3 separate regions of the Homo sapiens genome follow, and regions 1 and 2 are each linked to region 3. The links come from fine-mapping of genetic effects on gene expression. A gene starts in region 3. Each other region holds a variant in brackets. All regions are shown on one strand. Distances are between the middles of the regions. Region 1 has its middle 53 kb from the start of LINC02529. Region 2 has its middle 40 kb from the start of FNDC1. Region 3 holds the start of FNDC1 (fibronectin type III domain containing 1).

Region 1 (2,756 bases), 270 kb after region 3:
GAGCGTTTCAAGGCAAGCCAAGGGGCAGAGCAACAGTGACTCTGGTGGCTAGTCCAAAGGCAGTGGAAAGTGGCCACTTCCCTGGGAGCCATAAGAAGGACCTTACAGTCTCACTTGGGCCCCATGAAGCTCTGGAGTATCATTCAAGGACTCCACATTTAGATTCTCCAAATGGCCAGAAATGTGCTGATTAACAGTTCACGAGGAACCACGTGGGTGCCGTAGGGTGCTGAAGGTTGCATGGCTGCGAGAAGATGTTCAAATATACCTGATAGGTGCTTCCTGCCCCATCCCACAGTATTAACCACGTGTTTCTGAAATTTTGACACCTAGATCCTCACTGACACTGGAGGGACTGCTCCCCCCAGGGCTAGTCAAGTCCTAGAGACAGCAAATGACTCCCCCATGAGTGTGCCCTTCATGTGCAAACCACACAGTCCAGAGCCCACATGCAGACCCTGTCTCCTCTAGCAGGCTCTGCCATGCTGGGCCTCTATTCCCCTGCCGTAATCACCCCAGGGCCAGGTGCCAGACAACTGGAAACAGCCCCTATGCCCCAGACCCAACAGAAATTATTCACACTAGCCGGTCCTAAGCCTGCTCATCCTATCTCCCCAGTTTCTTCCCTCGGAAACCTCGGCCGAGGCTCTTGCCTGTGTTTCCTCTAGCTTCTCTGCCACCTGCCCAACCCTGGTGCTTCCGCATGGGGCCCTGAGCATCATAGTGTGACCCTCCTCTCGGGAACTGAGTGACAATGGCAATCGTCTCATCTGTTGGCTTCACCGCACCTGAAAACCTACAATTTACACCACCAACCCCACTTTCTGCCAGAAAAATCTGTCCTAACCAGCTCCTCTGGCTGGGTTTATACATATTCTTATCACAGCTGCCAAGATCATGGTCACCAACAGGTCTTATCTGTGCAAAGGGGATAATGATAGAGCGAGGATGGTATGAAGAGCACGCTAGGCACACGCAGTGAGCTCTCAGCCCGGGTCTGGCGCTGGGAGGTGCTTGGTGCATCTCAGCTCTGATTACGATGATGACAAACTGTGCACCTCAAGGCCTCCAGGTCACCTCTGAGTGCCAGACACTTCCCATTCCAGCCCCTGTGCATTATCCTGAGCAATGCTTGTCTGCCTGTTAACACCAGCTCTGCAGATGAGAAGCCTCTCAAAACCCTTCCCCTGCACACCTCAGCAGGAGCAGCTGCTGCAGCGACACTGGGAACCCTCGAGTCTGAAGCCGGTGGGGAAGGGGCTCAGAATCTGCTTACCTGAGAGCTCAGGGAGCCTCCAGAGAGATGATTCACCTCACCTGGAGAGAGACAGCCAGAAAGGGCTGCTTACCCAGCAGCCGCTCCTCTGCCGTGCAGGAGAAACAGCAATTCTTTCCCTTAGATTTGTCTCTGGCCCAGAACCACC[T/C]CCATCTGATTCCTGAGGAGAGACGGAGGTGGGAACGGGGGTTTAGGGGTTATGGTTGAAGCTGAATGAGCTTCTTTCTCTTAAAACTCCAAACATCAACATTCAAGGCAGTACAGCTGACGGAACACAAAAGAACATCAACAAATATTGGACTCCAGTTAATGACATGTGTGGGAACAAAGGCACTGATGTTTGCAGCTGACTTTGAAAAGTCTAAAAACAATAAGCTGGATGGATGGGTAGCTGCACAGATATGTGGAAAGGAAAGAGAGCTGACGGCCAACAGCTGCGATGTATCTAGATGTGGCTATGTGAACCACCGTATAATTCTTTACATTCTTCTGTATGTGTAAAATATTGGGGACAAAAGGGACCAGAGACATCTTCCTTCTTCAGCATGGAAGGCAGAGTGGCCCTAGTATCCCGGGCATTCCAGGCCTCCGCAGCAGGAATGGAGGCAGATGGCAGCCAAGCAGCTGGGGAGCCGGGCAGTGGCAGGGGCACCTGGCAAAAGGGGCTTCGCTGCGGAGCACCCGAATCAGTGCAGGGCATCTTGGAGAGCTTCACAGGAGGGGAGCCCCCACTGCCGAGCAAAAGAGGGAGAAAATGTTGGGGCCACACAGTGCAGGGTGGACTTGCTCAAGAGCCCCCTGGAGACCCATCCCAGGACTTATCTGAAGACACTTTGCAGATGTCTTGACCCCTGCATTAAGAGACCCAGTGGAACACTGGTTATAGCTAGAAATGCACATATTTCCCAAAATTACTCTACAGATTTGTTTCCATCAGGAAATTTCAAATCCTCAAGTATAATTATATTTGACTTTTTTGAGATGAATCTTCTTTTTGTAAAGTATCACTTCCTCTGGAACAGCAGGGTTATTATTTAACAAGTTTAGCAAAAAACAAACAAAAAAAAACATTTCAAATAGAACGTAATCAAAGTTCTCTCCCTGATCCATCCCAATTGTATACTTCATCTTTTCAATGATGAATTGGATTCCTGTCTATGAAGCCCAGAATCCATTAAACTCCCCAAACTGGGTCTTAGTCACAGCACAACTGAGAAGCCATGTTTCAAACATGGAAGTGAGAATGAAGGACTTGACTTGCCAAATTACTGCCACACAAGCCCGATTTTCTCTACTAGCGGAGGCAGACCAATGGGAAGTGAACACCGAGGTCCATTTGTGAGTGAGCTCCCAATCCATGAGCAAAATAGTTTTGAAAACTTTAGGGAAACATTTGAATATTTTCCAGATATTAAGGACTCTTCCAACTTCTTTATTCAAATCCAAGTATGAATGACTCAAAAACATTAATTGAATCTTC
Region 2 (2,756 bases), 40 kb before region 3:
CACACCCTGCTCTCTCAGCTGGCTCCCGGGAAGCACAGGCAGTCCAGAAACATCCCTGGAACCAGGGGACCAGGAACCACGGGATCATGGATGTGGAGACCGTCCTGACCAGGACCGTTGTGGGATGTTCTCGTTCTCATTCACTCCCTGTGAACCTCCTGCGGGGAGGGTCCCGTCTGAGAGACAGAGCTTCACAAGTCCCTTTCTGCTTTATTTCCTGTCTCAGTGACACATTAGAAAACAGGAGGAAAAGATATCATAGCTGCAGCCACCGGAAGGAAGCGAGGCTATCATTCCAAATGACCCTCCTCATAAAGAAAAACGGACTTAAACTGGGAATTTCACGTCTCAGTTGTCTCCTAGGTTTCTTTCTCTGGTGTGAGGACAGAAACAGGCTTCCCTGCCTTCCCCAGGAACCTCTCCCTCCTCTGAAGGCCTGGGAGAGCATTTCTGAGAGCTTGCAGTGCTCTTGGGAGCCACACTAGGCACCATCACAAACGTATCACAACAGACCGCACGTGTGCATTCTTCCCCAGCTAGCACCAAAAAGAAGATTCCAAATCGGTTTGGTGAATGGTGGTTAAACAAAAAGTACAGTCTAGCTTCCTAGTTTCCTTCCAGAACTGCTGCTGTGGCACAACCAATTCACATCAAGGAATCCTCTGGGACGTGAGCTGCGGGCCTGGCGACGCGCAACACAAGCAGGGCAGGGCATTCATTGTTCATCGGCTCCTAGCAGGTGGACTCTCTTCACAGACACACAGACCCACGATCTTCGTGCTATTACGGTTGCTTCATCTTCACAGTAAAAGCGTCAGGAATTCCCAGAGCGATGGGACATCAGCTCGGCTGTTCCGCTGTCTCTTGTCGGTGCTGGTCACGGAACCAACAGCCCCTTTGGTAATGAAGAGCTCTTTACTCCTGAGGGAGGACTGAAGTCCAAGCCAAAAGGCAGGGCACAGTGACGCAGAGGCCACTCCCTCAGGGGATGAGCCCCCTGCCCTCCCCAGGCCCATCAGAGGCCTCCCCGACAAGAGTGCTCGGTGGCCGGAACCGGCAGGGAGCTGAGTGCGAGGAGACCCGGGACACCGCTGCACTGGCCCCGCACGCGCGTCTCAGTGGCGGGTGTGCTCCTGCGGTGTTGGGACGCATGGAGCCCGTGCTGTACGAAACAGTCGTAGAAAACTACAAACAGGCTACACGAGGGGGAGGCCTCGAGCTGCAAAGTGGTGGCTGTGGACCACGTTAAACCGTCTCTACCCGGCCTGTGCGCTTGGCCTGGCAGCCTGAGCTCACAATCGTCCGACCACGTCCACTGGACGCCCTCGGTGACTGCTGGGCACATACGGGGGTCATCCTATCAAAAGTTACGGTGAAGTCAGGGTGGGTGGCGAGTCCCTGCAAGGTCGCCCCTCTGTGCCAACACAGCCTGATGGCTTCTTGTTTCAGGAAACATCCAGAATTACAACTGGCCATTGAGTTATTACATATCAATTGAACAAGGTAGTTTTAAAATGAAAGAAAATCTTGCAACATGAATAAAGAGATAGACTCTTTGAATCTGGCATACAGCTTTCCCTTCCTTCTTCCTGCTTTCCTGGACACACCGTGGACAGACCCATTTCCCTCTGGATTCATGGTAAGGTA[T/A]GTGTGGCCTCTGGAGGAAGGCAGATGGTGGGTCTTACTCCGGTTACAGTGCTTTATTTACCAAATCGTAGCTACACTGCCTTTCCCCCTGCCAGAAAAGGTTGTCGAACTCTTTTATCTTGGAGCATTTATGGGACCTGGATCCCACTGCGTGATTTTGGGAAATGCTTGTCTAAGGAGCTTTCAGGCTCTGTGTGAAGAGCTATATATCCAGCCATGGTGCTTTCATGAGTAAAGACATTAGAAAGACTTTTTCAAATACCAAAGGGTCCAGAAATATTCTCTTAGTGGCTCATTCTATTCATTTTGGGTCCTGGGGCAAGAGAACAAATAGTAATCTACATACCTGTACTTAAGTGGTGTTGATAAATCACACTTCAAGGTAATACACTCTTAAGTAAAATATATCCTCTCATTTTTCATGATTACTTGAAGGCCCTGGTGGAAGCTCTGCTCCAGGACAAGGGGACGCCAGTCACCTGTGGCGCCATCTCAAGGTGGCATCGCGTGGAGCTGGGTCCTGCTCTTACTGCCGCCTGACAGCAGTGCCCAGCCTGGCTCGGTGCCTCACCTGCCCCTGCCCCACCATCAGCGCTTTCTTAACAGAATAGCAATGCCGTTCCGGTGTTCTTCCATTCCCAAGCCACTGCGTGTGTCTCTGAGGAAACTGCCCCTTCCACTGTGGGAGGTCCGGCCCTGATTAGTCGCCAGAGACACACCTGGCAGGAGGCCCATGTGGACCCTGAGAGCAGACTTAGGGCCTCTGTGGCCAGGAATTCCGGGGCCCTGGGTGTCAGGAGGGGACCAGAGGGGCACATGGTCTGTGGTGGGCACACCTCTCTGGCCTTTCGGATTCCTCAGCTGGTGGGAAGAAGTGAAGCCAGAGAGAGGCCAAGCATCACCCTCCAAAGCGGAGGCTGGGAGCAGAGGCTGCACGCTGGGCTGTGAGGTGGGGCTGCCCTGAAAATCTTTCCTGAAGATGTACCTCAACCAGGTGAAAGATGGACTGAGAATGAGAAAATGATGCTAGAACAGGGCGTGGGACTTCCCACAAGCCAGGGCTTCTCCAGATGTGGCCTATGGACTCCCAGGTCAGCACCACCTGGGAC
Region 3 (2,715 bases):
CTTTCCACCAGCCCGTGTTAGAAGAGTCCCAACTCTGAGTGACCCTGTCTAGGCCACTGCAGAGCCCTGAGCCAGTGGGGAAGTGGGGCTTTGGGAAGGAGTGGGAGTAAGGAGGGGGCCTGTCACTTGGTTGGAGTTGGGGAGGGAGCTACCATTCCCCCAAAATAGGCAGAGCCGGGTGGCTGCTGGTGAGACAGAAACCACACAGCTCCATTAAATGGCATGTGGGGAAACATGATAACATAAGGGAGTAATGCAGGAAAGTGTGTTTGGGCTGGGCGTGGTGGCTCACGCCTGTAATCCCAGCACTTTGGGAGGCCAAGGTGGGCGGATTGCTTGAGCTCAGGAGTTGGAGACCAGCCTGGGCAACGTGGGGAAACCCTGTCTCTACAAAACATACAAAAATGAGCTGGGCATGGTGGCTGAAACCTGTAGTCCCAGCCACTTAGGAGGCTGAGGCAGGAGAATGGCTTGAGCCTGGGATATGGTGGTTGCAGTGAGCCAAGACTGCACCACTGCACTCCAGCCTGGGCGGCAGAGGCAGAGGGAGACCCTGTCTCAAAACAAAAAGAAAAAGAAAAACAAACAAACAAAAACCTTTGCTGGGAAGCAGGAGAGTTTCCTGGAAAGGAAGGCGGTAGGTTTACACCTTTCCTGGGTGCTCAAATTCAAAGAGATACTGTATTTCTGGTTTTCATCTCTTTGCAATTCATTTACCTTTTTTTTTTCCTCTCTGCAGAACACAAATCCGGTCAAGTTTTGGGTTGTCATGAGGGAGAACTGACATAGCGCTGGGCGGTGAGTTCAGCCAGGTTATCTCTGCGAGGACACCGGTCGGCGGCGGACAGCAGCACGCGGCGTCCAGGACCCGGCCTTCCTAGAGCTTAGGTCACTGTAGCCTCCAGGGGCGCTCCGAGTCCATCTGGAGGGCCGCGAGGCTTCCAGGCTGGAAGGAGGAATAGGGAGAAGGAGGAATAGGGAGACCTGGGGCAGTGTTACAATTACAGAAAAGGGAGAGGCGAGGTCCGCTGAGTCCTTGGCCTGGGCAACAAGGCACACTGAAAACTGGGTTCCTTTTCGACCCGCATCGTGCGCGCCCTAGAAATGACAGCCAGACGGAGCAGGGTCTAAGGACGCTGAAAACCCCTGACGTGGGCGCGCCGGGTGCGGGTAGGGACGTGGAAGGACTGGGCTAGCCACAGGAACTACAGCGCTGCGGACCGGGTGAGGGGTCCCGGCCCGAGTCCCCACTTGGGGCGCAGAGGTGTTTCTGTAAGGGGACAAAGGGCACTCCTCGGCGCGATGGGCGACTTCCCCAGCCAGAAAATGAGAGGGTTAGACGAGGGGAGGAACTTCCTCAGCCACTTGGCCCGGCACAGCGACCGCCCCAAGTTCAGAACCGCTAAGTCAGTCCGGGGCGCTCCGGCCCCTTCGTCCCGCGCCCCGCCCGCCTCCAGCCCGGGCCCCGCCGCCCCCGTCGCCCCTGTCGCCCGGGTCGCCCCCGCCGGCCCTGGCCCCGGCCCCGCACACCGGCAGGGGGCGCCCGAGCGCAGCTAAAAGGCTCGGCGGGAGGTCGGCGGCCTCAGTGGCGGAGCGCGGCTGCCGGTGTGCGGCCGGGAGCGATCGCCGCGGGGCAGGGGCGCGGCGGGCACCGCGCAGAGCGCGCAGAACAGACGGACGGCGGCGGGGACCCGACGGCGGCGCCTCGGCACTCCCCAGACTCCGGCCAGCGCCCCCCTGCCAGCCGCAAGCACCCAGCCCCGGCCCACCCCGGGCTCTCGATGGCCCCCGAGGCCGGGGCGACCCTGCGCGCGCCGCGCCGGCTGTCCTGGGCGGCGCTGCTGCTCTTGGCCGCGCTGCTCCCCGTCGCCTCCTCGGCGGCGGCCTCAGGTACGCGCCGCGCCCGGGCCCCCGGCGCTCCTCAGCTCCCCGCGCACCCTCCTGCGCTCGGGCCCCGTCGTCCCGCTCAGTGCTGGCTACGGGTCGTGTCACTAGCCTGTGCGTCCTCGTCACTCGCGGGTCGGGGCACTTGGCGCCCTGTGTGGGTGGCGGGAGCGGGGACGCCTCGGTGCCCGGGGACCGCAGCGCGCTGGCGTTTAACTTTGCCGTCGCCCGCCTTGGAGTCGGGAGGCTCCAGCCGTCTAAGTGTCCCGGGAGATTCAGGCACAGCGGGGAAAAAAGGAAAAGAAAGGCGACTTTCAGCGTGCGGACTGGGGTAATGCCTTTCTTTGCCCAGAATTTCTCGGGAGCGTAGGTGGTCATCCTACTTTCTCCGCGTTCACCTCTCGCGAGGCAGGATGACGGGCGCACTCGGGAGACCGGAGGGAGGCAGAGCAGGGCTGTTCTAGAAGGTCGTGGGGGAAAGGCTGCGAGCTGCCGCAGGGCGTCGGGTGCCTCTGCGCTCCAGAGGAGAAGCGCTCCAGTGCCAGCTCGGCTCCAGGCGGCAGGAGGCCCGCGCGCCCGGGGGGAACGTTCAAGCTGGGAGAAAATGTTTGTCTTGAGAGGAGGGAGAGGGAAATGAGAAAGCTGATTCCAGAGAAACTCGCCCTTCCCCAATGGCTGAGGCTGCAGCCAGGATGGATGCTTCCTTTGAGAGCAATGCTTTTCAGAAAATGCTAGCGCGCTCCTGTCAGATTTCTTGCAAGCTTCCTGCAGAGAGAGACAAGTTTGTGGCGAGGTTTTCATTCCTAAGCCTTTGGCGGCCCTTGTTACCAC

The links. PIP is the estimated chance that this variant, and not a neighbour inherited with it, causes the effect.
Region 1: its variant is fine-mapped to the expression of FNDC1 in tibial nerve (GTEx, PIP above 0.99).
Region 2: its variant is fine-mapped to the expression of FNDC1 in testis (GTEx, PIP 0.97).

Annotation. Positions count from the first base shown.
Region 1 is chr6:159,435,206-159,437,961 of GRCh38, forward strand. No RefSeq gene overlaps it. Among named protein-coding and RNA genes, the nearest start is that of LINC02529, 53 kb to the left of the region's middle. The variant T/C (reference allele first, on the strand shown) is at 1,425.
Region 2 is chr6:159,128,023-159,130,778 of GRCh38, forward strand. No RefSeq gene overlaps it. Among named protein-coding and RNA genes, the nearest start is that of FNDC1, 40 kb to the right of the region's middle. The variant T/A (reference allele first, on the strand shown) is at 1,648.
Region 3 is chr6:159,167,816-159,170,530 of GRCh38, forward strand. FNDC1 (fibronectin type III domain containing 1) reads left to right here and starts at 1,585. Exons shown (of 23, transcript NM_032532.3): 1 at 1,585-1,890. The coding sequence starts at 1,782. It overlaps FNDC1-AS1 (FNDC1 antisense RNA 1), which reads right to left and starts at 2,192. Exons shown (of 4, transcript NR_121668.1): 1 at 1,997-2,192; 2 at 718-946. RefSeq lists a silencer at 1,464-1,633 and an enhancer at 2,440-2,715.